Homo sapiens: one gene and its partners. The protein of the gene in region 3 interacts with the protein of the main gene of each other region in a pairwise test. Each region holds a gene or a part of one and is shown on either strand. Other genes may lie near its edges.

Region 1 (6,949 bases), on a different chromosome or scaffold from region 3:
CTATAAGTCCTAGGCTCAAGCAGTCCTCCTGCCTCAACCTCCCAAAATGCTGGGACAACAGGCGTGCACCACTGTGTCTGGCCTGTTATTGCTTATTGAGGACTTACCATGTGCCGAGCCTTATTCTAAGCACTATGGAGATAGCAGTGATAGGGGACGTCCCTGCTCTTGTAGAACTGTACTTTAATTCTCCTTTAATTCTCCCCTGCTTACAAAATAATAAAAGAAGGCTTTACTGAGGACCTCCTGGGTGCCCTGCTGTGCAGCTTGCCCTGGTCCTTGCCCTCTGCAGCTTGTTATTGCACTTAGAAGGCAAGGCATGGACATGCCTGAAGGGGTGTGGGAGCTACTGACGTGCCCAGGCCACAGGTACCTCAGAGAAAGGGGCAGGAGCAGGTGTGATTCATCCCTGTGACCCCAGGGCCCAGCCCAGAGCCAGGCACGTGGTGGGGGCTTTTGTTTTTTTTGTTTTTTTTGTTTTTTTTTTGAGGCGGAGTCTTGCTCTATTGCCCAGGCTGAAGTGCAGTTGCATGATCTCAACTCACTGCAACCTCTGCCTTCTGGGTTCAAGCGATTCTCCTGCCTCAGCCTCCCGAGTAGCTGGGATGACAGGCGCCCGCCACCATGCCTGGCTAATTTTTGTATTTTTAGTAGAGACGGGTTTCACCATGTTGGCCAGGCTGGTCTTGAACTCCTGACCTCAGGTGATCCGCCCACCTTGGCCTCCCGAAGTGCTGGGATTACAGGTGTGAGCCACCACACCGGCCTGGGGCTTTGTGAACACTCTGTGAATATGCCGACCTGGGGGTCCAGGAGGCAAGAGAAGGCCCCCAGTATGGGTCAGTCCAGGTTATTTCCAATCCATTCACATTTCTGATGCAGTGTCCTCAGAAGCAGAATGGGATTTCCACAGGCAGGTAAGGGGAGGGTGCAAAGAGAGGGCATTCCAGGCAGAGGGCGTGGCAGGAGTAAAGGCCCAGTGGTTGCAGGTGGGGGAGCACAAATGGCCTGGGGTGGTGGGACTCCAAGATGGATGTGTATTGGGAGGGGAGACAATAGCAGGAGAGGCAGCATAAATCTAAAACCTGTCATCCCTACAGCCCTAGTTGGTGGCTCCTTGGCCATCAGCAAACAGGGTAAACTCAGGTAACCAGGGAGGCAGCGTGACTCTGGGCAGGGAGAGGTGTCCTGATCAGCCAAGCAGCTCCTCAAATATTTGTGCAGCACAGACCATGCACAAGGTGGGGCCATGGGAGAACCCGCAGAACCAAGGCTCCTGCCCAGGTGAAGCTGTTGCACTTCAAAGCCAGAAAGCCCTTAGGTGCCAGTCCTCTCCCTGTACCGATGAGGAAAAGGAGGTGATTCTTTCCACAACCCCGCCCATCATGAGTCAGGACTTAGAAATAAACAAACACCAGCTCGGAGCAACAAAAGCCCTGGGGCTTTGTAACCAGAGAGACCTCAGTTCACATTTGAACCCTGGCCCTCCAACCTCCCTGCTGTGTGACCTTGGCCTGGTTACTCAACCTCTCTTAGTTTCAGCTGTCTCATCTGTTATTGCCCCATAACAGGGCCCCTGTCTCAGAGCTGTCCTGAGGATTAAAGAGATCATGCAGTGCCAGGCACCTAACTGGGGATGGATTCTTTATAGCTGGTATTTTAATCTACCTCTCTGAGTGTGTTTCGTCATTGATCAAATGTGGGCCAAGCCAGGGCATATGCAAAGCTCAGTACATGTGTGTTTCTTCCTTCTTCTATTTTCAGAAGGGTAAAGAGGACTGTCCTGGTCACACCATGGGCCAGTGGCACATAGTAGGGCTAAATAAATGTGTCACTTTATCCATCAGAGTTAAAGAGAATTGCCCAGGTCACCCACTGAGTCAAGAATTTGACGCTGGTGCTCTTTTCTCTGTGTTACAGGTGGGCACTGTATGCAGTTTGGTGCCTGTGAGGTAGGCAGCACACAGTAGGTGCTTAATGAATGCATGTGCATGGAGAGAATGAATAACCCTATTAAGCAAGTGACTGTCAGCATGGCTGGCCAGGAAGCTGGGAGCAGACAACGTTAACATGGAGGCAGAGGTCTGAGGGACAGTGGGAGCCTTGAACCCTCCTCATGTCTCTATCGCCAACTGCCAGCTTCAAGGGAGCCCCACAGGGCACTGGCCCCAGGCCCTCCAGTTCTTTACCTTCCCCTCCAGGGTGGGCTTTGGATTCAGCAGCAGTGTAGCCATTCTCTCCCTGCCCAAGAGAACAGAGTGAGGGGTGGGCTTAGGTGAGGTGAGCTCCAGCCTCAGGGAGGCAGACAACAGGGTTTTCAGAGGGGTCACTGAGAGAGTCTTAGGTAGAACCACGGGTCCGTCACACCCCAGCATCTCACGCCCCAGATGCATCATGCCCGCTTCATATGTCCACACCTTTGCCTGCACTGTGCCCTCTGCCTGGAAAGCCTTTTTCTCTGCTGTCCACCTGATAAATATTCATCCTTCAAACCGGCTTGGGCAGCGACTCCTGGGTGAGGCTTTCCCTGATACCCTCCTCCCCAGTAAAACTGGCCGCTCTTCCCTCCTGTCCACCTGGCTCCTCTGTTTCCATACCAGCACTTGCCACCTGGACTGTATTGCTGGGTCATTGGTAGGGTCCCCTACACCCTGGGAGTGAGCCCCGGGGCAGGACGGGGGCTGATTTTCCTCCGTGTCTCCCATGTATGCCCACTCTCTACTGCCCACTCCTCATCCCAAGGTTTGCTCTCCCAAGATCAGGAGCCTGGTCAGGGCGGCTCTTACCTGGGGACAGCTCTTACTTGGAGACAACTCTTACCTGGGGACAGCTCTCACCTGGGGACAGCTCTCACTTGGGGACAGCTCTTACTTGGAGACAACTCTCACCTGGGGACAGCTCTCACCTGGGGGAAGACCTTGTTCATGTCTTCGGTTTCCTGCTGCCCGACTGGGGCTGTGTGCAGAGAGCTCAGCACGGGTTCCCTGCATTGTCACCAAGGCCAACCTGGAGGAGGGACAAGCAGGAGGCCTTGCCCGGGCCACACCCTCCCTGTGGGCAGGCCCCTGTCAGCTGCCTTCCAAGCAGAGGCAAAGGCAGGAGGGCCCCTCTCCGGCCAGGCTATTCCCTCATCTGCCATCTGACAGCAACATTGCGAGGCTGGAATCCTCATCCCTATTCCACAGATGAAGAGCCAGAGGTTCAGAGAGGGAGAAACTGCCCCAAGTCTCACAGTGCATGGGAGGAGTGAAACCCAGAAACTTTTCAGAAAGTGCATTTTCCTCCACATCAGAGATGGAACCGGAGGAGCTCAGGTTCCAGGGGTATGAAGATGCAGGCAGAAACTCCCAGAATTGACGTTTCGGTGGCTAGAAAGTAGGGGTCATTTTCTCATTGATGTTCTTCTGTTCAACTACATAGGTGACCTAGATTGAAAGAATATGCATTTTCCACTAAAATTATAAAGCAAATATAATTTTAAATTGTTTCATTTAGAAACGTGGCAATGTGAATTTTTACTGCCCCTGAGGTGGTGCTGAGGTAGGGAAGAGGCGGGGGGCTGGTTGCTTGCGTGAACAACCCCTTCTATGTCCCCAGTGAGTGGGTTTCCCTAGCAGCCTGTCCCACTGCTGAGTAAACCAAGGCCCTGGAATCTTGAGGGACAGGTCCAAGGACCCGGACCAAGGGAGGAGAGGTGTCTACCTCCAGAAATGAGCTCAGGAGTTCTTGCACCTGCCTCTGATGCCCATAGATTTTCCAACCTGCAATCAGCCTTTTCTTTTGCATTGGGAAATAAAATGATGAATCCACGTGGGTGCAAGTAGGAGGCACAGACACAGGGGCAGCCCTTGGGAGGCAGCAAGTAACATTGTGAAGAGCTGAGCCCTAGGCCGGGAGAACAGGACTCTCATTAGGGCCCTACCACTGGCTCTGACGGGTGACTCACTCCCCTTCCCTGCGCCTCAGTTCCTTCATCCAGAAAATAAAGATATAAGCTAGATGAAGGGGGTGTTTTAGTTTAAGGTTCCCCAGAATCAGACTCTAAGACAAGATTTGAGGGCAAGTAGAGTTAATTGGGAGTGATCCCAGGAAATGCTGGTCGGGGGGTGAGGGAAATGAGACATGGAAGAGAAGGATCCGATAACAGTCGTGTTATGAAGCAGGTTTCCGCTGTGGGCAAGTGGAATTTAGCCCTGCTGGGGCACTCGGGGAAGCTAGGGGAGAAGATGCCCCTCAGAGTTATCCCACTCAAGGTGAGGGGAACTGGGGTAATAATCTGCCAGCTCCTGCCAGTCTTGGTTGAGAATGGCCAGAGGAGGCCAGGCATGGTGGCTCATGCCTGTAATCCCAGCACTTTGGGAGGCCGAGGCAGGTGGATCACCTGAGATCAGGAGTTCAAGACCAGCCTGGCCAACATAGTGAAACCCCGTCTTTACTAAAAATACAAAAAATTAGCCGGGCATGGTGGCAGGCGCCTGTCATCCCAGCTACTCAGGAGGCTGAGGCAGGAGAATTGCTTGAACCTGGGAGGCAGAAGTTGCAGTGAGCCAAGATTGCGCCATTGCACTCCAGCCTGGGCAATAAGAGCGAAACTTCGTCTCAAAAAAAAAGAGACTAGCCAGAGGGTGTTAATTCCTTGTACCACTGGGCTGCCTTAGGCAAGGAGATGTCAGTGATGGCAACTTAGCAGCTGCACGCTAAGCTAATATGTCCTGAAATGGAAAGCGCTGATAGCATGGGCAGGGCACCCATGGTCCCTACTAAAGACACTAACTAGATTTTATCTGGCATGTCAGCTGCAATTGATTGCAAAAGGCTCTCTGGAACATGGGCCTCAGAAGGATTCTGAGGTCAGAACTGTGATTGACTAGTGATGCCTGCCATGGGTGTAAGAGTGGAGAGGGGTATCAGACATGATGGCTTTCACTCGCATCCGTGTGAAGAGACCACCAAACAGGATTTATGTGAGCAATAAAGCTGTTTATTTCACCTGGGTGCAGGTGGGCTGAGTCCGAAAAGAGTCAGCGAAGGGAGATAAGGGTGGGGCCGTTTTATAGGATTTGGGTAGATAAAGGAAAATTACAGTCAAAGGGGGGTTGTTCTCTGGCGGGCAGAGTGGGGGTCACAAGGTGCTCAGTAGGGGAGCTTTTGAGCCAGGATGAGCCAGGAGAAGGAATTTCACAAGACAGTGTCATCAGTTAAGGCAGGAACCGGTCATCTGGATGTATACGTGCAGGTCACAGGGGATATGATGGCTTAGCTTGGGCTCAGAGGCCTGACAATGACCATTTGCCATTCCTGGACATATTAATGCCCTTCAGCCTCTGGCCTTCCTTGACTCCGTGATTCTTAAGTGTTCCTTTATAAAAAGACTCCCCGGGGCTTTGAAATGCCCTTTCATCTGCTGAGTCCAGGTACAGCCACATACAACTATGCTGAAAGCACTGCGTCTCTCCAGGGCTCAGGCTGTCACCAAGAACCCTTGAGGGAAGGGCAGCAGGGGGCCTGGTGACATGAAGGACAGGCCCTGGTGCCTCAATCCTTGAACTTCCTGGAATCATATCCCCTGCAATTCACAGTCTCACTCTCAAGGGGAGGGCATGGATGGAAGGGAGGCAGATATTATTTATTGAGCAGCTACTATGCTCCAGGCACTACACCAGCCACCTTACACACGCCCTCTCCCTTGATCCTCACAACAACTCTGAAAGATAGGTAATATTATTACACCCACTAGACAGATGCAGAAACTGGGTTCAGAGAGGTTAAGTAACTTGCCAAAGCCACACAGTGGGTAAACAGCAGAGCAGAGATTTTAACCCAGGTCAGTTTTGCCTCCAAGCAGAGTTGATTCACACTCCCTCCCTTGTGGATGAGAATTTCTGTTGATCACATCTCTGTCAACACTTAGTACCATCAGACTTTTTGATTTCCTCCAGCCTGACAACTGTGAAATACCATCAGTGGCTCGCCGCCTTTAGGATTTGCAGTCCTCTTTTGCTTAACCTCAGATGTGTCTCATTCTAAAGCAGGGAGATGCTGGGCACTGTGGCTTGCACCTGTAATCCCAGGACTTTGGGAGGCCAAAGTGGGTGGATCGGTTGATATCAGGAGTTCGAGACCAGCCTGGCCAACATGGTGAAACCCTGTCTCTACTAAAAATATAAAAATTAGCCAGGCACGGTGGCCCACGCCTGTAATCCCAGCTACTTGGGAGGCTGAAATGGGAGAATCGCTTGAACGAACGGAAGGCAGAGGTTGCAGTAAGCCGAGATCGTGCCACTGCGCTCCAGCCTGGGTGACAGAGTGAGACTCTGTCTCAAAATAAATAAATAAATAAATAAAGCAGGGAGAATGGTGAGTGGTGGATGGAGAGTTCTAGCAGCAGCTTAAGGCGGTGCCCATATTATGAGGGTTAGAGGAGGAAATTGGAAAGAGTGGAAAACAGGGCTGCCAGAGTCCCTCAGGGAAACTCAGAACTTTGATCAGCAGAGTCAAAGGGACCTCAGGCTCAGAGAGAACAACGGCCTCACTTTACAGAAGGGGGATCTAAAGTCCGGAAAGAAGAGGGGACTTGTGCAAGGCCATACCGTGGTCAGTGTCCCAGTACAGCGAGCACTCCTTCCACAGCAGCAGATGGCCTCAGGGACATTGGCACGTGCAGCCTCAATTTTTTTTTTTTTTGAGACAGAGTCTTACTCTGTTGCCCAGGCTGGAGTGCAGTGGCGCGATCTCCGCTCACTGCCATCTCTGCCTCCTGGGTTCACGCCATTCTCCTGCCTCAGCTTCCCAAGTAGCTGGGACTACAGGTGCCTGCCACCACGCCCGGCTAATTTTTTGTATTTTTAGTAGAGACAGGGTTTCACTGTGTTAGCCAGGATGGTCTCGATCTCCTGACCTCGTGATTTGCCCACCTCGGCCTCCCAAAGTGCTGGGATTACAGGTGTGA
Region 2 (7,657 bases), on a different chromosome or scaffold from region 3:
TGGCCAAACCACCTGAACATAAGAACATCTTATCAATATCCTCCAGGGCAGCAAGCCATACTGCCCAAAACCCTCCTGCCCATACCTGTACATACCCCAGCCTGTAAGCAATGGCGGGCTCTGGCATTAAGCTGGTCCCCCACCTCCACAGGTTTTTGTAATAAACCTGTGTTGTTGTAAAGCCTCTCTCTCTCTCCCTCTCCCCCTCTACCCCCTCCCCCTCCTCTCTCTCTCTCTCTCTCTGTGTCTTTCTTGAACCCCACCTTCCCTTTAAAAAATCTAACACTTAAGACTTTTTGTAGAAATAAGACACCAAATTCCAGCCTGACTCCAGTATAGCATCACATGACAGATAGCAGGCCTTGAAAGAAATTGAAGTATTTTACCCTAAAATATATTTCTTTGTCATATTTTGAAATGGTCCTGCAAAGTTGTCTCTTGTGGGGAAAGTCTACATTCTGTAGAAAATCCCTTTCCCTTGCCAGGTCTTTTCTCTGATCCAGGAGAGAATTAACAGAGTCTGGCACCTTTTCAAGTCTCATAAGAAACATTTACAATCTATTCTCTCCAAACGCTGCTACCTGGAAGCTTCATTTGCATAGTAAGAACCTTGGCCTCCACAACCCCTTATCTTAACCCAGGCACTCCCTTCTATGGATTTGAGGTCTGTAGATAAACTCTTTTAATCAATTGCCAATCAGAAAATCTTTAAATCCACCTATGACCTGGAAGCCCATGCCCCACTTCCAGTTGTCCCGCCTTTTGGGACCAAACTAATGTACATCTTACATGAATTGGTTGATGTCTTATGTCTCCCTAAAATGTATAAAACCAATCTGTAGCCAGACCCCTTTGGGCAGATGTTCTTAGAATCTCCTTGGGCTGTGTCACCGGCCACTCGTCCCTCATGTTTGGCTCAGAATACAGCTTTTCAATTATTTTACAAAGTTCAACTCTTCATCAACATCTTTTTTTTTTCTTTGAGATGGAGTCTCGCTCTGTTGCCAGGCTGGAGTGTAGTGCTGTGATCTCAGTCCACTGCAACCTCCCCCTCCCAGGTTCAAGCGATTCTCCTGCCTCAGCCTCCCTAGTAGCTGGGACTACAGGAGCGTGCCACCATGTCCAGCAAATTTGTGTATTTTAAGTAGAGACGGAGTTTCACCATGTTGGCCAGGATGGTCTCGATCTCTTGACCTCGTGATCCACCTGCCTTGGCCTCCCAAAGTACTCGGATTACAGGGGTGAGCCACCGTGCCCGGCCCTAACACCTTGTCATTAAACATTCCCTGTCCACCATTAATCATCATTCACCCAGTCTCCTCTCCTCTCTCCCCACCCCTACCCCCACTCCATCCAGCCCCCTAACATTCTGGCCCCAGTTCACACAGCCCCCTGCACAAGCAGCAAACAGGGAGGATGAGCACCTCTGTCAGCTTTGGGACATCTGTGGACCTGCAGGCCTAGGATAAAGGCGCATGCAGGTTTGGTAGCACCTGTGAGTCAGGATGCTACCAACAGTGAGCCTTAGACCTGCTAAATTAGGTTTAGCCTAAAGCTGCCTTCTGACATATTTTAAGTTCAGCCTAAAGGTTTCTCCGTACATCGTGAACTATATGCTTCCGTTTTCTGGGAGTCGCTTTCCTTTTTCTGTCCATAAATCTTCTTCTACCACGTGGCAGCCCCAGAGTCTCTCTGAACCTATTCCGGTTCCCCATGCCCAACTGTGAATCGTTCTTTGCTCAATTAAACTCAGTTAAATGTAATTTGTCTAGGGTTTTCCTTTTAACAGATCTAAGTGCTTCTTTAATTAGAAACAAATATCCTGCTCTTCTCCACAACAGATTGTGTGAATCAAACCACAAAACGTGAGTCTGAAGGTTCAAGATCTTCATACAATCTCAAAACAGACTGGCTAGGCAAGACATTGAGCATGCACGGAGGCCTGGACTGGATCCTCAGCTGTGAGGCCTTCCTGCTTCTGGCTGTTTGTGTAACCTGAGCAGTCTACGGCTTGGCCCTATTTCCTGGTACAGGCATACTTGGAAATATAAAGAAATATGCATGCTTGGTAAGAAGTCTTGCACTCTTGCACTCGGACCCCTTTCCCCAGCTGACATTGTAGGTAAGATAATATGAATTGAGCAAATGTGACTCCCATGGAGTAAAAGCCCTCTATTTAACCAGGCAGTCGAGATATTGAATAATCCTAGTGGGAAGCTGTTTTAAAATTTAGAGCTAATTACTTAATCTAAAGCTAATATTTCTGAAGGAAGTTTTTTTCAATCTGATAATCATACCACCATAGGCAGTTTATTTAAGAAAACACATTAATTAAAACATCAACGTTCAAGAAATCACAACCAGGTTTAGAAGCAGGCACGTTTCCTTTGGAACACTTGTAATTAATATTCACACCACTTCCTGCAGGTTAGCAGGCTACTAACGCTCGTTTGAACGGGCTGTGGGTCGTAATCACAGATGATGCAGAATCGCTGAGCTCTGAGGCCCCACAGCGTTCCAGTTGGGAGAACTAATCTCTGGAATGTTCTCAGTCTCTGCTTGCCCCTGGGAAGGAGGGTAGCAGGCGGCATGGGTGACCCTGAGGCGACTGTGCTCTGAGGACCCAGAGCTACCTGCAAGGGCAAGTAGGAAACAAAACACCGGACCCATCTCCCTCCCTCCCTCTCTCTCCCGCAAGCCTTGTCACACACACACACACACGCACACACGCGCACACACACGAACTTCCCATGCCTCTTACTTTGCTGACAGGCCGAGAGAATAGAGACAGCAGCCAGCAGGATCGAGTTCCCGGCCATCTTTCTCACGGAACTATTTGTAGAGCGCACGGGAAGATAAATGGCGCTTCTTGACTTTGAATGCTGACCTTCCTTATCGGGTAAACAAAGTTGGGGACCGGGTGGGGGGAAAAGGCTGATTCAAGCGGCTGAATGACCTTTGCTCTGGAACAGAAGTCAGGAAGGCAGGCAGGTCTGGGGCTGCCGGTCACAGATCTTTATGGGGCTGGGAGTTGCTTCCGGCGTTTGTTTTAAGCCTCTCCCACGGCCAGCGGGCAGGGCTGTAGCTCACTGTGGGACCAGCCCTCCAGCCGCAGTGCCAGTTACACTATCTTCTCTGCCAATGCACAGACTCTCTGGATCCCTTTCATCCCCACGCCCTTCCCTCCTAGGGCCTTGCTGAGACCTTTCTCACCTCCTGTGGAAAAAGTGAGAAGGAACTACTTACTTAATCCTGTTGACATTTTAAATGCTAATTTAAGCCAGTTCTAATGTATTCACGCTCTGAATGGCCGATTTAGGATTTGAACCCAGTCTAGCAGATTACAACTGTGCCCTATCCCCTGCACCAGGCTGCCTCTCACTGTCACCTAGAGACTCTGATAATAATCATACTTTTTTTTTTTAAGACAGGGTCTTGATCTGTCACCCAGGCTGGAGTGTGTGGTGGCACGATCATAGCTCACTGCAGCCTCCAACTCTTGGGCTTAAGTAATCCTCCTGCCTCAGCCTCCCAAGTAGCTAGAACTACAGCCACAAGTCACTGTGCCCAGCCATTTTTAAAAAAATAAACCGGCCGGGCGCGATGGCTCACACTTGTAATCCCAGCACTTTAAGAGGCCAAGGAGGGTGAATCACGAGGTCAGGAGATCAAGACTATCCTGGCTAACACAGTAAAACCCCTTCTCTACTAAAAATACAAAAAATCAGCTGGGCATGGTGGCACGAACCTGTAGTCCCAGCTACGCAGGAGGCTGAGGCAGGAGAATCTGCTCTTTAGAGATGCAGATTCTGGCCTGGAAGGATGGCTCATGCCTGTAATCCCAACAGTTTGGGAGGCTGAAATGGGCAGATGGTTTGAGCTCAGGAGTTCGAGACCAGCCTGGGTAACATGGCAAAACCCCATCTCTTAAAGAAATACAAAAATTAGCAGGGCATGGTGGCACGTGCCTGTAGTCCCAGCTACTTAGGGGGCTGAGGCAAGGGGATTGCTTGAACCCAGGAGCCTGAGACTGCAGTGAGCCAAGGTCGTTCCACTGCACTTCAGCCTGGGTGACAAAGTGAGACCCTGTCTCAAACAAATAATAAAAATAAAGATGCAGCTTCCCAAAAACCAGAGCTGGGGGCCTTTCCTCACCCCATCCTACAGCACCATTAGAGGGTATATCTTGGCTCAAGCTGCTATAACAAAGATACCATAGACTGGGTGGCTTACAATAGCAATTTATTCGTCACAGTCCTGAAGGCTGGGAAGTCCAAGATGACAGTGCTGGCCAATCAGTTCCTGGTGAGGGCCCTCTTCCTGGTTTGCAGAAGGACACCTTCATGTTGGAGACAGAGAAAGAGTAAGCTTCCTGGTCACTTCTTATAAGGGCACAGATCCCATTATGGGGGCCTATGCTCATAACCTCACCTGTAGCTAATTATCTGCCAAATGCCTGATAACATCACGTTGGGGGTTAGGGTCTCAACATATGAATTGCAGAGGGGACACAAACATTTAGTCCCTAGCAGGGAGCTCCCAGTGTCTTCTGGGGAGGGCAGTTGCCTCAGCCTCACACAGACCCTACAATTTAATAACACAACCTTGGGCCTCTCTGAGCCTCCATTTAATAAGATAGGGCTAATAAGAGCTGAAGAGAAGTTTAAATGACATAATCCTATTCTAAGGATTGAATTAGTTAATACTTATAGAGCACTTAAAACAGCACCTGGCATATACAAATGTGTTCTGTGTGTCTGCAAAATAAACACATAAAGTATCTAGACAAGTACTTAGCATATAATGTACCTAATGTTAAAAAATACTTTCAGAGGCAAAAATCATGCCTTTCATACAACATAAAATGAAAACATATCAAAATTTTTATGTAACTCATTCATGAGGGAACCAGTAAGATGTTATAACCAGTTCAAAGTAGAATTCATGGAACTACACATATACAGGAAAGAAGGAATAACAAAATTAATTTATAAATAGTTGCAAGCCAGGTCTGCTCAAAGTTTCTGTTGGTCTTCAGGCTTCCTTGGCTGTTTGCTCTTGAAATCATTGACAACTAAGATTAGATAAGAAAGTAGAGCCAAGAAGCTGGGGCAGCACCAAAACATTCTTGTATACTCAGTTTAATAGTTTTGGGCTTCAGTACATGGCAGAGATTCTAAACTGCAAACTAGCTGCCCTGAACCCATATCACCATCTACTATAATAACCTCCCAAATGACAGATCTCGAAGGAGAGGTCTACATTAGGCCTGGGGACAGGCAGAGGCTCTCAAAGTCAGAGAACGGCTCGGGAAGAGAGGAACAACAGCAGGAGGAGCTGAGCAGAGAATTGTGGCCCTGGCTGATGACTGTAACTTTTGGGTGTTGGTAACTCTTATTTTGAGAAACTCTTGGGTACACCTGTACTAGTCAACTGGTTTAAAATCTACAACTTCCGGCCGGGCGTGGTGGCTCACGCCTGTAATCCCACACTTTGGGAGGCCGAGGTGGGCGAATCACCCGAGGTTGGGAGTTCCAGACCATCCTGGCTAACACGGTGAAACCCCGTCTCTACTAAAAATACAAAAAAATTAGCCGGGCGTGTTGGCGGGCGCCTGTAGTCCCAGCTACTCGGGAGGCTGAGGCAGGAGAATGGCGTGAACCTCGAAAGCGGAGCTTGCAGTGAGCTGAGATCGTGCCACTGCACTCCAGCCTGGGTGACAGAGCGAGACTTCGTCTCAAAAAAAAAAAAAAAATGAAACTTCCCAGCTTCTGGACAAATCCTGAGGTTCCCTACTGACTTCTCCCAGCCAATCTTAAGTCAGTCCCCCAAATCCAGATTCTAAGAGATGGTTGACACAAAGTAAAAAAATAAAAAATCAATTAATCAATAAAATCTCAAGTGCTTCAAAACCCCACGTGTCTATTTAAAAAGATCTTCATTGTCGGTATATGTAGTTATTGCCTCTAGGAAAGTATAAAAGAATAGAGCATTGTATAATGAAATGTTTATCACCTTCTGCAGTGATAAAATTTCCAGGTGACCCACAGCTGAAATACTGCCATAGCATTAACAAAAACTCACAAAAATTAGAGTTTCTCTGTACGTTTTCCCTGGATTGGTTGAAGAGGAATGGCATTTTCCCTGAATGTTGTTCCCATAGATCCTTCTAGTATGTTCCATTTATTACATTTTTCTATGAAAAGGAAAATAAGAGGACAAACAGCATACTGGTAATTGCTATGGTCTGAATGTTTGTCCCCTCCAAAACTCATGTTAAAATTTAACTTCCATTATAATGGTATTAAGAGGTAGGACAATAAGGGGTGATTAGGCCATGAGAGCTCTGCTCCCATGAATGGATTAATGTTGTTATAGGAGTGGATTGTTATAAATGTGAGCTTGGCCCTCTCTTGCCCCCCCGCTTTGGGATGACATAGCACAAAGGTCCTTACCAGATGCCAGCACCTTGATATTAAACCTCCTAACCTCCAGAACTGTGAGAAATAAATTTCTTTTCTTTATAAATTACCCAGTGTGTGGTATTCTGTTATAGCAACAAAATGGAATAAGACAGTAATGATAGTAAAATGTTTTTAAAATATTTTTATTATCTATGTAAACTCAAAAGAAACCTAAAAGACTTTCTGAGGACTTTGGTTACTACTGAATCACTGTTACCAAAACTATACTCTAGGTAAGGTGAAACAGAGAGGCCAAGATTTGATCACATAAAAACAAACCTGAACCATGTAAAAGAACTGCTTTCATGAAATGTGAACTCTAAATGTAACTCTTTCAGTATAATTTTGGTAATAGATGAAAAGAAATGATATATTAAACTATAGAAATGTTTTTCCTCAGCCGGGCATGGTGGCTCACACTTGTAATCCCAGAACTTTGGGAGGCCAAGGTGGGTGGATCACCTGAGGTCAGGAGTTCAAGACCAGCCTAGCCAACATGGTGAAACCCCATCTCTACTAAAAATACAAAAATTAGCCAGGCATGATGGTGCACATCTGTAATCCCAGCTACTGGGGAGGCTGAGACATGAGAATCACTTGAACCCAAGAGGTGGAAGTTGCAGTGAGCCGAGAATGCGCTACAACACTCCAGCCTGGGTGACAGAGCTTGCTCTGCCAAGCTCTGTCTCCATCTCAAAAAAAAAAAAAAAAAAAAAAAAAGGTTTTTCCTCAAACCAATTGCAACCCCCGCAAATTATTCCCTGGTCTCACCCTCTCTGTTCACTTGCTACCCTTCCAAAATTGACAGCACATCATCCAGGTTTCTGCTGAGCACTACAGCAGGGCTGTCCTCACTGCCATCAGGCCAGGTAGCAGAAAGAGACAGAAAATACACCTCTTTCCCAGGAACTATCAGAGTGATCATGATTATCAATGACCACATAACTCTCCATGTACCCAGAGTTCATTACATTATCTTGCTAGAAGTCCTGACTAGTTGAAGAATCTTGTAACTACACAGCAGTTTTTCTGTGTTTTGTTTTGTTTTGAGACAGGGTCTTACTCTATCACCCTGGCTGGAGTGCAGTGACATGATCATGGCTCACTGCAGCCTCAACTTCCAGGGTTCAAGCAACCCTCCCACCTCAGTCTCCTGAGTAGCTGGGTTTAATAGTGGCTTTAACACAGTAAGT
Region 3 (7,034 bases):
CCCAAACACTTCTAATATTAAACGTTGAGAGAAATATGAACTATGTATACATTTAAGAAAGATTAATAAAAACCAGATAGGCCAGGTGCAGTGGCTCATGCCTGTAATCCCAGCACTTTGGGAGGCCAAGGCGGGCAGTTCCCCTGAGGTCAGGAGTTTGAGACCAGCCTGGCCAACATGGTGAAACCCTGTCTCTACTAAAAATATAAAAATTAGCTAGGCTGGTGGCATGTGCCTGTAATCCTAGCTACTTGGGAGGATCGCTGGAGCCCAGGAGGCAGGGGTTGCATTGAGCCCAGATCATGCCACTGTACTCCAGCCTGGGTGACAGAGCAAAACTCTGTCCCAGGAAAAAAAAAAAAAAGCCAACAAAGATAATTACCCAGTATTTGGTGAATCAGTGAGTAACAGTGGTTGTGGTGGTCTATTAAAAACATGGAATCATGTTTGAGAAATGAAAATTGTCAGGAGCACATCCAGCTCCATGCAGATCAAAAACAATTCAAATACGGTGGGATCTCTGAGTGCTTTTGTGCCATAGCGTTTATTGTCATGCATTTGTATGATCACCGTAGACTTTACCAATTTTTATTCGATAATAATTTGTATTCATCCATTCATTCATTTTTCAACCCTCTTATTCTGGTTTGGGGTGCTGGTGGCTGGAGCCAATCCCAGCAGCTCAAGGAGGGAGGAACCCACCTTGGATAGGAGGCCACTCCATCACAGGATACACTCATGTACACACTCACACTCAACCCAGGACAACTTAAACATGCCAGTGAACCTAATGTGCACTGTTTTGGGATATGGGAGGAAACCAGAGTCCCACAGATGTGGGGAGAATATGCAAGCCCCACACATACTTAAATGTTATAACAAAATGACATAGAAATGATGTTATTTGAGGACCTGCTGTATTTGGTTTAAGGTACAGCTTGTTTTGGGTTATTCTTTTGGGTAAAAGTTCTAACATATAGTTTCTTTAAATCTGTTACTCTGTAGATGTAATTGGTTTGATCAGTCACTGTATTAATAGCTCCAGAGCCAATCTCATAAAAAGGAAATGCATACAACAAATTGTTCCCTGGATCTTAATTTTAATCTAAAATAAAATAGTGTTAAATGGGAAGTGTTTTACCAAAAATATAGATTCAAATTGTTATTCCTTTTTATGATTTTATAGTTTTATAGAATGTTATCTTAAGTAACATTTTAATAAGATTTGATGTTAAGTACTGAAGACTGTCAAGCTTGGAACACATAGTAATTATTATTATCTCACTACCACAGACATATCCTATTTACAGACTTCTACTTAATAGTAGTAGTTTCCATCATGCCTTCTTTCAGAGATCCCACAAGCTATTGCTGCCTGTGGGGCCTATACTTTGATGATTAATAAAATAAGAATTTACATGTCATTACAGAAAAATTATATATAGACTGAAAATTAACTGTATTAACTGTCCAGAGATAATCGTTATTAACACTTGGGGACATTTTGTTTTCAATCAGTATACTTATGTGTCAATTTTGAAATAAGAAAAATGAAAAACGGAGAAAAAAAGTCAGTAATTAACTGCCAGACATAGTGACTGTTAACATTTGTTGATATATTATTGTTAATCAACATATTACTACCTTACCCCAGGTGTCAGATTTTATTTTCTCCTAAGTCCTTTTATACATCCCATAAAAGCCCATCTCAACCTGTTAGCCCATTCCTGAGAGAGGAAAGTGCTGAAGGGAGCAGAAGGAAGTGCTGAAAGAATGGCAAAGGGGAAGGTAAGTATCAGGCATGACTAGTTAGAACCCGGCATTTACTTTGGCAAAGAAACCATATGGTTTATGGTGTTTAGATTCTGTAGTGTTCAACTTGGGTCTATTATATTCTGAATTATATAGTAGACTGGGCATTTTTGGCTTGAGACTCTGTCCCCCTTCATAATATTGGTCTGTAGCAAGGAGTTCCAAACACTCAACTTCTATCAAATTTTCTTTCCTTAAAGAGTTATTAACTACCTGTATTTTTCTAGCATATATTCTTCATTGTCTAAACAGGTGGCTAAAGGCTGTTATTTAGGTTGTCTATAACACTTCTACTTAGAAAATAGCAGCTTATAAAAGCAGAACTACCATTCGACCCAACAATCCCATTACTGGGTATATATCCAGAGGAGTGTAAATCTTTCTGCCGTAAAGACATACACCCATGAATATTCATTGCAGCACTATTCACAATAGCAAAGACATGAACCGGCCTAAGTGCTCATCAGTGACAGACTGGATAAAGAAAATGTGGTACATATACACCATGCAATACTATGCAGCCATAAAAAAGAATGATATCATGTCTTTTGCGGGAACATGGATGGAGCTGGAGGTCATTATCCCTAGCAAACTAACATAGGAAAAGAAAACCAAATACCACAGGTTCTCACTTACAGGTGGGAGCAAGATGATAAGAACTTATGAACACAAAGAAGGAAACAACAGACGCTGGGGTCTACTTGAGCGGGGAGGATGGGAGGAGGCAGAGGAGCAGAAAACTGTTGGGTACTGGGCTTAATAACGGGATGATGAAGTAATACATACAACAAGCTCCCCATGACATGTGTTTACCTGTGTAACAAACCTTCACACATACCCCCAAACTTAAAACAAAAGTTAAAAATAAGGGACATAGCAGCTTAAACTTGACATATATTTAATGACTTTTGTTTGAATTCTTCAGGTAAAATATAAATAGATTTTCTTTTGTTCTTTATTGAGATTCATCCTTTAAGTTGCTTATGTTGATATTTGCTTATGTTGATATTTGCTTATTGTAGATCTAGTGGATTGGAAAATTATGGGAAGATTTTATTTATATTTGAGTAGTCACTTTTTTTTTTTTTTTTTGAGACAGTCTTGCTGTGTTGCCCAGGCTGGAGTGCAGTGGCACGATCTCGGCTCACTGCAAGCTCCACCTCCCGGGTTCACGCCATTCTCCTGCCTTAGCCTCCCGAGTAGCTGGGACTACAGGTGCCCGCCACCATGCCTAATTTTTTTGTGTTTTTAGTAGAGACGGGGTTTCACCATGTTAGCCAGGATGGTCTCGATCTCCCGACCTCGTGATCCACCCGCCTCGGCCTCCCAAAGTGCTGGGATTGCAGGCGTGAGCCACTGCACCTGGCCGAGTAGTCACCTTTTATGAAGATGTGTAGCAGAATACAGTTAAGAAAGGAATAATAATTAGACTTGGTAATTCCTATTTGAACATATGGTTTTGTGAGGTTTTTGGGCTTAAGTGGTCTTAAAAGGTCAGAAATTTTAAAAATTATTTTGAGACAAAACATGGGAAAGGAGGGAGTTGGCCAGGAGTTTATCATGAAGCATATACAGGAGTCATCCCCTACGTTGACACTGGTAAGTTGTACTTCAGTCACATGAAACATGTCACCTTTCCATAAATACTCCATTCCCTTTTGTGATTTTGTTCTTTGCACATGTTGTTCTATCTCTGCCTGGAATGTGTTCTCCACCTTTTGATTGTCTGCCATGCAAGCTTCAGTTGATTCTTAAGGTTCAGTTTAAATATCACTTCCTAGTGAAACCTTTCATTAGTTATTAAGGTGGAATTGGTTGTCACCTCTACTGGTTTTTAATAGGGCTTTAGTGTTATCTATATGAGGATATCTGTCAGATTATAGCACAATTTCAATTTACATGTTTGTATCCCCAGCTAGACTGATAGTTTCTGAAGTAAAGAAACTGTGTGTTTATTTAGTATCCTAGTACTTAGTGCATAATTGGTATGCTTCAATAAATCACTAAAGTTAAATAAGGGATTTTTATGACTAAAACTATTAGAAAATTGTTAATTAAAAATAATGCTGTGGGCAGGGCATGGTGGCTCACATCTATAATTCCAACACTTTGGAAGGCCTAGGCGGGACGAATGTTTGAGCCCAGGAGTTCGAGACCAGCTTGGGCAACATAATGAGACCCCATCTCATTTTTAATTAATTAATTGTTTTTATGAATGGATGAATGAATGACTGACAGGGTCTTGCTCTGTCACCCAGGCTGGAGTGCAGTTGTGCAATCGTGGCTCACTGCACCTCAACTTCCCAGGCTCTAGCGATCTCCCTGCCTCAGCCTCCTGAGTAGCTGAGACCACAGGTGTGCGCCACCATGCCTGGCTAATTTTTGTATTTTTGGTAGGGACAGGGTTTCACTGTGCTGCACAGGCTGGTCTCAAACTCCTGAGCTCAGGTAATTCCTGGGATTACAAGTGTGAATGACCATGCCTGGCCCTCATTTTTAATAATAAGTTAAACAATTTTAAAAATAATGCTGTGATTGACAGATTAACTAGTTCTAATAACAATTTGTTAGTTGGACATGTAAGCTCTAATATTTTCCTCAAGTCTCTTTCTATCACAGGTGAGAAAAATGAGGCTTAGAGGATTCACCTAAATTAATGGTTACCTGATTAACACAGTATTAACCTGAACTAGGCTTTGTATAAATGGGTTTTTAGTATTTGTGAAATACAGAGATATGCCCTAAAGAGATGAGCTCTTTACTGTTTAAAGCATAGTTAACATACTTTAAAGATGATCTTATAATCCTACAACAGCTAACTGTTATTGAAAAAGAAGAGTTTGTTTCTGGAAACAAATTGGGTGTAAAGGAGATGACCAAAAATAGTATCCTGTTTCTTGTCAGATTTAGAAATATGCCATAATCCTAAAGTTATTTGTAACTACTTTATGATTTTATGCCTAAACTTAAATCTGCTTTACACGCTAAAATGTTAATGATATACATTTAATTTATTGGGCTCAATTTTTTACAGTTATCATCTGAAATGTGTGGAATCCTAGTTCTACTGAATACCAACATTTGTATGATGATAATTAGGCCAGATTTTATCCATAGAAGATGGGGCTTCCTGTCATACATTGAGAATTGAAAACCTTTGTTGTGGGAACAGCAGAATCCTATTTTTGGAGTTGTCTGTGACCTTTACTACATTATAATTTATGGCATGGTTGTCAGATGTTTATCATTCTCTTCTCTGCACTGACAACCACTGTATGAGTTTCCTTTTTTTTTTTTTTTTTAATTTCTTAACAGCTAAGCTGTTTAATAGAGTACTTTTTCGATGGAAAGCATACAAAAATAGTTTAGTTTTATTTTCATGTTATCTGATCTTTTTAGAGCATTCTGTTAGTCTAATCATAAATAGTTTTGGGATTTTCTGAACTTGTATATGGCCTAAACAACCATGGAAACTGAAGCTGCTCTCCACCCTTTTATTAAAAGAATGACAATATATATAAATTGGTTGTTTTGACACAAGAGTGGTATTCATTTATAGATGAATTTTAAAATCAAATTGTCTTCTAGGCCCTAGAATCAAGAGTATTGAAAACATGAAAGGTGCTTGTTAGGAGTTTGGGTGTAGAAATGCCAGACTCCTGTCTCTTGAGTTACATGTCAGAGGCAGGAAAGTATCCACAGAGTATCTTATGTCTGTGGATCCATGATTACTCTACTTTTTAGGGGAATGAGAAGAATAAAAATAAAGAATTCTTTACTATTCTTTGTGGGATTTATAAATCCTTTGGTTGTCGTCCTTTCCTCAAGAAAAGTAACGCTGGAAATTAAAAAAAAAATCAAGTTCAAGATGGTATTCTGGTTTTTTTTTTGAGGTGGAAGAAGGAAATAGAAAAGCCATTAGGCAACTCTAATCTTTTGACTAATGTCATATACCATGTTAGGCAACATGTTTGGTGGAAGCTACTATATATCAACTCCTTCAGGAGTCCTTACTTTGTCTGCAGTGAGTCCTGTTTTAGCAATGTAATATCAGATGCATTCTTGTGCGGAAGGAACCTCAATAGTCTTCTGAAAACTTTTGGTGGCCTGCTTTATGACTTGCTAGACAATTGATACTTTAATGATGTTGTATATGCTGAGCATTAATCTCCATCTATACTTTAAGTATGTTCACTTCTTGCAGAACTTCTCAAACTTCAGTATTTTTGGTGGTATTCCTTTTGCTGAAATAATAAATTCCTGGGATTCTTTATGTTTGTAGAATTTAGAATTTTGCTTTTCTCCTTTTAATTTTGTTTATTCTTTTAGTAAACATGGGAGTACTGAAGAAATACTTTATTAAATTGAATTCAAGTAATATCTAAGGCTACAGTCTGATATACTCTAGGATGTTTTTTCCATCTAATTGGTTTAGAAGATTAGAATTTTCTATAGATTGAATAAACAGGACTTGTCTATATTTGGATTGTTTGGAATTTTATTTTTCTACTACTTTCTGACATTTCCACTGATAAGCCATAAGTGAATGTGCATATACCCTTTTTTGGACTTGTGGTAATAAATTAGGACAGTTCATCATTAGATTTACGATGAATCTGTTGGCTTACAAAAGTTCACTCCAGTGGAGTCATTTTCCTTTTGAGATTGCCTAATACTAAACTTGGACATTCTATTTGAAGTTACTTTGTGGTAGCAACATTCCAGAGCTTTGTTGGTCCAGACTGGCTGTTTGAAAGAATCTTCAAGCTGCTTCTGTCTGGTTATGAAAATAATTGTATATGCATAAAAATCAATATATTCTCATTCCTAAATTGACCCATAATGAAGTGCTTCTCATGTTAAAGCTCTGTCTTGAGGAGAATTCATTAAACAACAGCACAGAGATATTTTTCTCTCTAAAACTGACAATTTAGCTTATTGCTGTTGCTATATTGTCTGTAGGTTTGCCTTCATTATTGTTTTTTAAATATTGAAACAATGCTTTACAAGTGTATTTACAAGTAAAATATTCTTCTTAACCCTGTAGGAGTTGGAAATTCAGAATCTTTTCTGGGGGAAGAGAATATGGGGAGGTAGTATTGAGAAAGTCTTAAGGATTTAAAATGAATGCCACTTAATAAATATACCCCCTATTAATGTGAGTGAGTTAGTCAACCTTTTTTTTTGTGCGGGGGTTGGGGGTTGAAAACTAAAGATGGAGT
Region 4 (6,842 bases), on a different chromosome or scaffold from region 3:
CAGAGTGGGAGAGAGTGAGTGGAGATGGACCGCTGCCATAGTGATGGGGTAAGGAGAAGGCCTCTAGGGGTATACGATGACTAAGTGCAGATAAGGCTACTGATGTCAAAACAGGGGTATAGGTGGGACTCATAGCGGACAGACGGAGGTCAGATTGGAGGACTTGATGAAGGAACCAGGCTGGCAGGTTGTGGAGGTGATGGCAGTTATAGAGGTCAAGGGGAGAGTAGCTCAGGACTGTGAGCTTGCAGCCCCAGGGGGAATGCAGTGGCTCTGAGTGCAGATCCCAGGGGTGTTCTAGCAGCAGCAACAGCAGCTGAGGAGCTGGGCTCTGGCCCTCCACCCCGGTGCCCACCTCTGCACTGTTGATGCCGCAGCCCCTCTTGGCCCCTCATCCCCAGCTAGGCACCCCCAGAAAGAGCTCCGTGCAGACAGCAAAGCTCACACCCCCATCTGCAGGGCCCTTTGCAAGTCTTCAGCCTTCTAGGTAAAAATCTAAACACTTTTTGGAAAGTTTTATTTGAAAACTTGGGGACAGGACAGAGACAGCAGGATGGAGACTGTATTCTCCTGCTAGGGTTCTTAGGTCAAAAGCCAGGCTCGGGTCCCTCCCGTCTCTAAGTTCCAGGTCCACTCCAGTCTGTGGACTCCTGAGGAATATACCCACCCACCCACTGTCAGGCCCTTACCCCTCCCCCACCGCCCACTTCCTGTGCCTGAGGAGACACTGAGGCGTGGGGGTAGACTATGAGGGAGCGGGGGTGGGGAGGATCTGGTTAAACTCCAGAAGAAGGAAGTGAGAACCTGGGAGTTTGGGGGCTAAGAGGAACAGATAGAAAAAAGAAATAAGGAGGGGGCTACTGTCTTTGCCTCCTCCATCACGAAAGCTTTGCCCTGAGATGTCTCCCTTGAAGCTCAGATAGGAAGTCCGGGGTAGATCACATCCTGTGACTTGGCAATGGCGCCCGTCTTTGGGTGCTGGTTGGGAAACAGTCATGCCCCTGCTACGGGGGGCTGGGGCAGTGCACGCCCCGCTGTGCCAGGCCCTCCATCTCAGCTGGCTGCAGGCTGGCTGTTGGCATAGGCCTGATCCGGGAAGGAGGCCCGGGCCCTGCGGGTCTGGGCACATACTGAGGCATAGAGCTCCGGCTCGGGGCCCGAGGCCTGGGACTTTGGCTCAGAGTCCAGCACCACCTCCGAGTACTTGACGGGGGTTCCAGGACCGGGGATCCGACCCTGAGGAGGCCGCAGCTGCAGGCTGGTATAGCACATCACCTCCTCTGCAGCCTGGAGATGCAAGGCTGTTAGAAGTTCACTGGACCCTCGGAAAAGCCCGAAAAGCCCCCCACTTCCTTCCCTCCCCCTTTTCTCCAGCCACAGTTGACTCACCCTGGCAGGGCCTCCAAGAGTTGGATCCTGCTGGTCTGGCTCTGGGTCTTGAGACAGCCGTCCTGGGACGGGGAACAGGAATCTGGTCAGCAACTTGTCCTTCCTCCTGCACGCCCCCATCCCAGCCACCCAGGACCTGGCCTCTGTGCCCCTCCTCTCTGCCAGCTCCCTACCTGTCTGTAGATAATGCAGGTTCCCATACAGCGGGACCTCTTCCACAGACTCTCCAGAGCTGCAACGCAGAGTTTAGGGGATGAGTGGGGACTTCTCGGTAAGAGAGAACTCTCAGTCAACCCATCCCTGTTGTCCTTCACCCACCGTCCCTGCCCCGGATGGCTCCTGCTCCGGCCCCTGGTCCACTGGGACAAGTGTGCAGCCAGCGAGATGAGAAATAGCAGCGTCACAGCCCCTAAGAGGACCCACAGTCCCCAGGCCTGGGTTATGGAGGGGATTCCTGTGGATGTGAAAGGAAGGGGGGTGTAACAGCCCCGCCCCACCCCCAGGGCCCAGCAGGTGGGACCTGGGGCCACATGACCCCTCCCCCACCAGCCCCTGCCCTGCCCAGCTCACCCAGTGCGAGTAGATCCGTGCAGTTGTCGCCTCTGCTCATGGCTGCAGATGTGAGAGTCCACAAGCACACTGCTCTGAGCCGAGGGTCAGCCTGGTTCATGGCCTGACGGTTTCCACAGCACTTCTTACTCCCATCCCTCCTCAGGCCCGTACCCCGCAGCTCAGCATCCCCAATACTGGTGGTGGCAAAGTCTCTGGTTTCCGGGGAGGAAGGGGGAGGGGAGGGATGAAAAAAAGAACAAAGACCCCGCCCTGTGCCTGCACCTGCGCCACTCCTGCAGCTCCTGAGCTTCCCCCACCCTCGCTGCCCAGGCCCTTTGCCCCCCTTGAGAAGAGAAGCAGGCCTGTGGGTAATGTGCCACGGGCAGTTGAGTCCCTGAGGACTCTGAGGGCGGGGGGTGGGGGCAGAAGTGGTGTGAAGCAGGACTAACAAGGACAGGAACACCCCTTCTGCTCCAGGATGCCCACCTTCCTCCCTGACTCTGGTCCCAGAAGAAAGATGTATTCCTCAATGAGTATGGTATAAAGTGGAAGGGTCGGGGGAGCCTCCTGGTACCTCTGATCCCATCACACCCTAAGGCTGATCTGAGAGGATATGTGTTTAGATGATGCTTGTTATTGTTTCATTGGGGGCATTATAATTTGGGGGACACCCCCAAACCTCCCCTTTCAACCCACTTCATCCAAACTGTCTGTAAGAACTGTCACTCTCAATAATTAATTGCATTTTAAAACTCTTTGCTGTAGGACTGTCCTGGGAAACTGAGCCCTATCTTGCACATGTTCACTTCAGCGGGTGTAGTACCTGCCATACCTAGAGCTAACTCCATCACGTGCAAGGCTATTGATGTAGGAAGAGGGATTTTAAGTTGCAAATATAAACCTGAGACCAGAAGTCAGAGATGTGTTTTGTCTAGCCCATACAACATTTTTTAAAAGTTTAAAATCAGTGCAGTGGCATGCCAACAATAGGGATGGCAGAAGTCCTGCCCCTTGAGTTGCAGGCAATAAGGGGGTGCATTGTCTGTAGAGAATTTAAAAAATAAAAATCAGTCCTCTTATTATCACCATGTTCCAGAAATTCTGAAAAAAAAAATCAGTGATAAAATTATCCTCCCTGAAAAATATTTTATGGATCTAAGTTTTATATTTTTTTTGAGACAGGGTCTTACTTTGTCTCCCAGGTTGGAGTGCAGTAACACAATCTCAGCTCACTGCAGCCTTGACGATCTCCCGGGCTCAAGTGATCCTCCCATCTCAGCCACCTAAGCAGCTAGGACTACAGGCATGTGCCACCACACCCAGCTAATCTAGTTCATTTTTTGTAGAGATAGGTCTCCCTGTGTTGCCAGGCTGGTCTCAACTCCTGACCTCAAGCAACCTGCCCACCTCGGTCTCCCAAAGTGCTGGAATTACAGGCATGAGCCACTGCGCCCAGCCCAGATCTAACTTTTAAATTGCTGTAGTGGACCAGGTGCAGTGGCTCATTCCTGTAATACCAGCACTTTGGAGGCCAAGGCAGCAGGAGGATTGCTTGAGGCCAGGAGTTCAAAACCAGTCTGAGCAATATAGTGAGACCCTCCATCTCTACCAAAAAACAAACAAAAACAGTAGACAGGCCTGATGACACAAGCGTGTAGTCCTAGCTACTTGGGAGACTGAGGTGGGAGGATCACTTGAGCCCAGGAGTTGGAGGCTGCAGGGAGCTATGATTATGCCACTGCACTCCAGCCTGGGCGACAGACGGAGAGACCCTGTCTCTACAGTAGATGCACAAATACCATTGTCTTACAACTGCCTACAGTATTCAGTATGGTAACATGCTGTAAGCATTGGGGCCTAGGAGCACCAGGCTATACCATGTAGCCTAGATGGGTAATAGGCTACACCATCTAGGTTTGTGAAAATACACTCTATGATGTTTGCACAATGACAAAATTGCCTAGTGACTCATTTCTCAGAACATATCCCTGTTGTTAAGCAATGCATGGCTGTTTTTATGCTGACATGATTATATTTACAAAGTTCAAGGAAAGAAAATATTCACTGAGTTTATTTCTTGGCCCTTATTATTCATTTTATAATTGCCATTGAGAATAATTTTGTCATATAAAGAATGTTTAAATTTGTTTTAATTTTATTTATTTATTTATCTGAGATGGAGTCTCCCTCTGTCGCTCAGACCAGACCGCAGTGGCACAATCTCGGCTCACTTGCCCAGGCTGGAGAGAAGTGGCGTGCCTGGCCATAAAGCATTTTTTTAAATGATCCACTTGAAAAATAAAACTTTGTTCCAGGCATGGTGGCTCATGCCTGCAATTCCAGCACGTTGGGAGGGTGAGGCAAGAGGATCGCTTGAGCCCAGGAGTTCAAGAACAGCTTGGGCAACATGGCAAAACCCCGTCTTTACCAAAAATACAAAAAATTAGCCAGGTGTGATGGTGCACGCCTGTGGTCCCAGCTACTCGAGAGGCTGAGGTGGGAGGATTGCTTGAGCCTAGGAGGTAGAGGTTTCAGTGAGCCAAGATCAAGCCTCTGCACTCCAGCCTGGGCAACAGAGTGAGACCCTGCCCCCCACCCCCAAAAAAAGAAAGAAAACAAGAAAAATTTGGGTCTGGGCATGGTGGCTCACGCCTGTAATCCCAGCACTTTGGGATGCTGAGGTGGGTGGATCACCTGAGGTCAGGAGTTTGAGAGCAGCCTGGTCAACATGGTGAAACCTCGTCTCTACTAAAAATACAAAAATTAGCCGGGCATGGTGGCAGGTACCTGTAATCCCAGCTACTCTGGAGGCTGAGGCACAAGAATTGCTTAAACCCAGGAGGTGGAGGCTGCAGTGAGCCAAGATCACTCCACTGCACTGCAGCCTGGGCGACAGAGCAAGACTCCATCTCAAAAAAAAAAAAAAAAAGAAAGAAAGAAAAATTTGGGCCAGGTGTGATGGCTCACACCTGTAATCACAGCACTTTGAGAGGCTGAGGTGGGAGGATAGCTTGGGCCCAAGAGTTTGAGACCAGCCTAACCAACATAGTGAGATTCCCATCTCTGCAAAAAATTAAAAAATTAGCGAGGCATGGGGGCATGTGTGCCTGTAGTCACAGCTACTTAAGAGGCTGAAGTGGGAAGATTGCTTGAGCCTGGGAGATAGAGGCAGCAGTAAGCCATGATTGTGCCACTGCACCACTCCAGCCTGGGCAACAGAGTGAGAGCTTGTCTCAAAAAAAAAAAAAAAAAAAGACAGAAAAGAAAGAAAAATGTTTTTTAAATGATCCGGAACAGGCAAGGTGGCTCACACTTGTAATCCCAGTACTTTGGGAGGCTGAGGCAGGCAGATTCCTTGAGGCCAGAAGTTCAAGACCAGCCTGGGCAATACCCTGGTCTCTACAAAAAACAAACAAACAAACAAACAAAAAACAACAACAAAAAAACACACAAATTAGCTGGGCATGGTGGTGTGCACCTGCAGTCCCAGGTACTCAGGAGGCTGATCCAAGAAATTTGGGGCTGCAGTGAGCCATGGTCTCACCACTGCACTCCTGACTGGGCAGCAGAGGGAGACCCTGTCTCTCTCTCTCTCTCTCACACACACACACACACACACACACACACACACACACACACAAAGACCACTTGGTGTCAAATATGCTAAGTATGCCACTGATTCCTTGTCAACAGTTAAAAATTGGGAGATTTCAAATTTTTAAAATTCTAATTTGTTGATTCCTTCAAAAAAAGATCTGGCAATAGTGCCCTGAGTTCTCTAAAGGCAATAATCAGTTGGGGACCACTTATCATTATTATATCTGGCCTGAACCCCTTATTTACACCGACTGTGCCAACTGGCTTAGATTCAAGATTTCTATTACCCTGCTTTGCGTACCCAGGCTGTCACTGGGTCATCAGCTAGACCACTGGTCCCCAGCCGTTTTGGCACCAGGGACAGGTTTTGTGGGAGACAATTTTTCCATGCACAGGAGTATGGGAGGAGGGGATGGTTTTGGGATAAAACTGTTCCACCTCAGATCATCAGGTATTGTGGTTTTTTTGTTCTGTTTTGTTTTTTTGACAGGGTCTCGCTCTGTCACCCAGGCTGGAGTGCAGTGGTGCAATCTTGGCTCACTGCAACCTCGCCTCCTGGGTTCAAGCAATTCTTATGCCTCAGCCTCCCAAGTAGCTAGGATTACAGGCATGCGCCACCATGCGCAGCTAATTTTTGTATTTTTATTAGAGACTTTTTTTTTTTTTTAACCATATTGTCCAGGCTGGTCTTGAACTCCTGGCCTCAAGAGATCCACCCACCTTGGCTTCCCAAAGTGCTGGGATTACAGGCATCAGCCACTGCACCTGGCCTAGATTTTCATAAGGAGCCCACAACATCACGTGCATGCACAATTCACAATAGGGTTCGTGGCCCTATGAGAATCTAACACTGCACTGATCTGACAGGAGACAGAGCTCAGGCGGTAATGCCAGGATGGAGAGTGGCTGTATATACAGATGAAGCTTCCCTCGCTACTCCGCCGCTCACCCTTGCTCCTCCGCTGCTCACCTCCTGCTGTGCGGCCCAGTTCCTAACAGGCCATGGACCAATAGTGTTGGGGACCCTTGAACTACACTATGATAACTCCCCTTGGTGAGGGTTTCTCCCTGTCCTGCCCTTCCTCCTCCTTTCAGGAAAAACAAGAAGACACACCCATATTTCATTTATTTATTTATTTATTTATTTATTTATTTATTTATTTAGAGATGGAGTCTTGCTCTGACACTGAGGCTGGAGTGCAGTGGCGCGATCTCTGTTCACTGCAACCTCCGCCTCCCAGGTTGAAGCTATTCTTATGCCTCGGCCTCCTGAATAGCTGGGATTACAGGTGCTGGCCACCACA

Evidence for each region.
Region 1: the proteins of PLN (region 3) and LDLRAD1 interact in binary tests that used the Homo sapiens proteins (3 or more experiments, as listed by UniProt).
Region 2: the proteins of PLN (region 3) and MGST2 interact in binary tests that used the Homo sapiens proteins (3 or more experiments, as listed by UniProt).
Region 4: the proteins of PLN (region 3) and SIT1 interact in binary tests that used the Homo sapiens proteins (3 or more experiments, as listed by UniProt).

Annotation. Positions count from the first base shown.
Region 1 is NC_000001.11:54,015,187-54,022,135, forward strand, and holds the start of LDLRAD1 (low-density lipoprotein receptor class A domain-containing protein 1), read right to left. Parts: upstream 3,001-6,949; 5' UTR 2,991-3,000; coding exon of another isoform or gene 2,927-2,990; coding exon 2,906-2,926; intron 2,242-2,905; coding exon 2,190-2,241; intron 1-2,189.
Region 2 is NC_000004.12:139,661,182-139,668,838, reverse strand, and holds the start of MGST2 (microsomal glutathione S-transferase 2), read right to left. Parts: upstream 3,021-7,657; 5' UTR 2,820-3,020; coding exon 2,762-2,819; intron 1-2,761. UniProt on the Homo sapiens protein: Catalyzes several different glutathione-dependent reactions. Catalyzes the glutathione-dependent reduction of lipid hydroperoxides, such as 5-HPETE.
Region 3 is NC_000006.12:118,551,296-118,558,329, reverse strand, and holds part of PLN (phospholamban), read right to left. Parts: intron 1-7,034. UniProt on the Homo sapiens protein: Reversibly inhibits the activity of ATP2A2/SERCA2 in cardiac sarcoplasmic reticulum by decreasing the apparent affinity of the ATPase for Ca(2+).
Region 4 is NC_000009.12:35,648,795-35,655,636, forward strand, and holds SIT1 (signaling threshold-regulating transmembrane adapter 1 precursor), read right to left. Parts: upstream 2,138-6,842; 5' UTR 2,060-2,137; coding exon 1,960-2,059; intron 1,844-1,959; coding exon 1,708-1,843; intron 1,622-1,707; coding exon 1,563-1,621; intron 1,452-1,562; coding exon 1,390-1,451; intron 1,288-1,389; coding exon 1,054-1,287; 3' UTR 501-1,053; downstream 1-500. UniProt on the Homo sapiens protein: Negatively regulates TCR (T-cell antigen receptor)-mediated signaling in T-cells. Involved in positive selection of T-cells.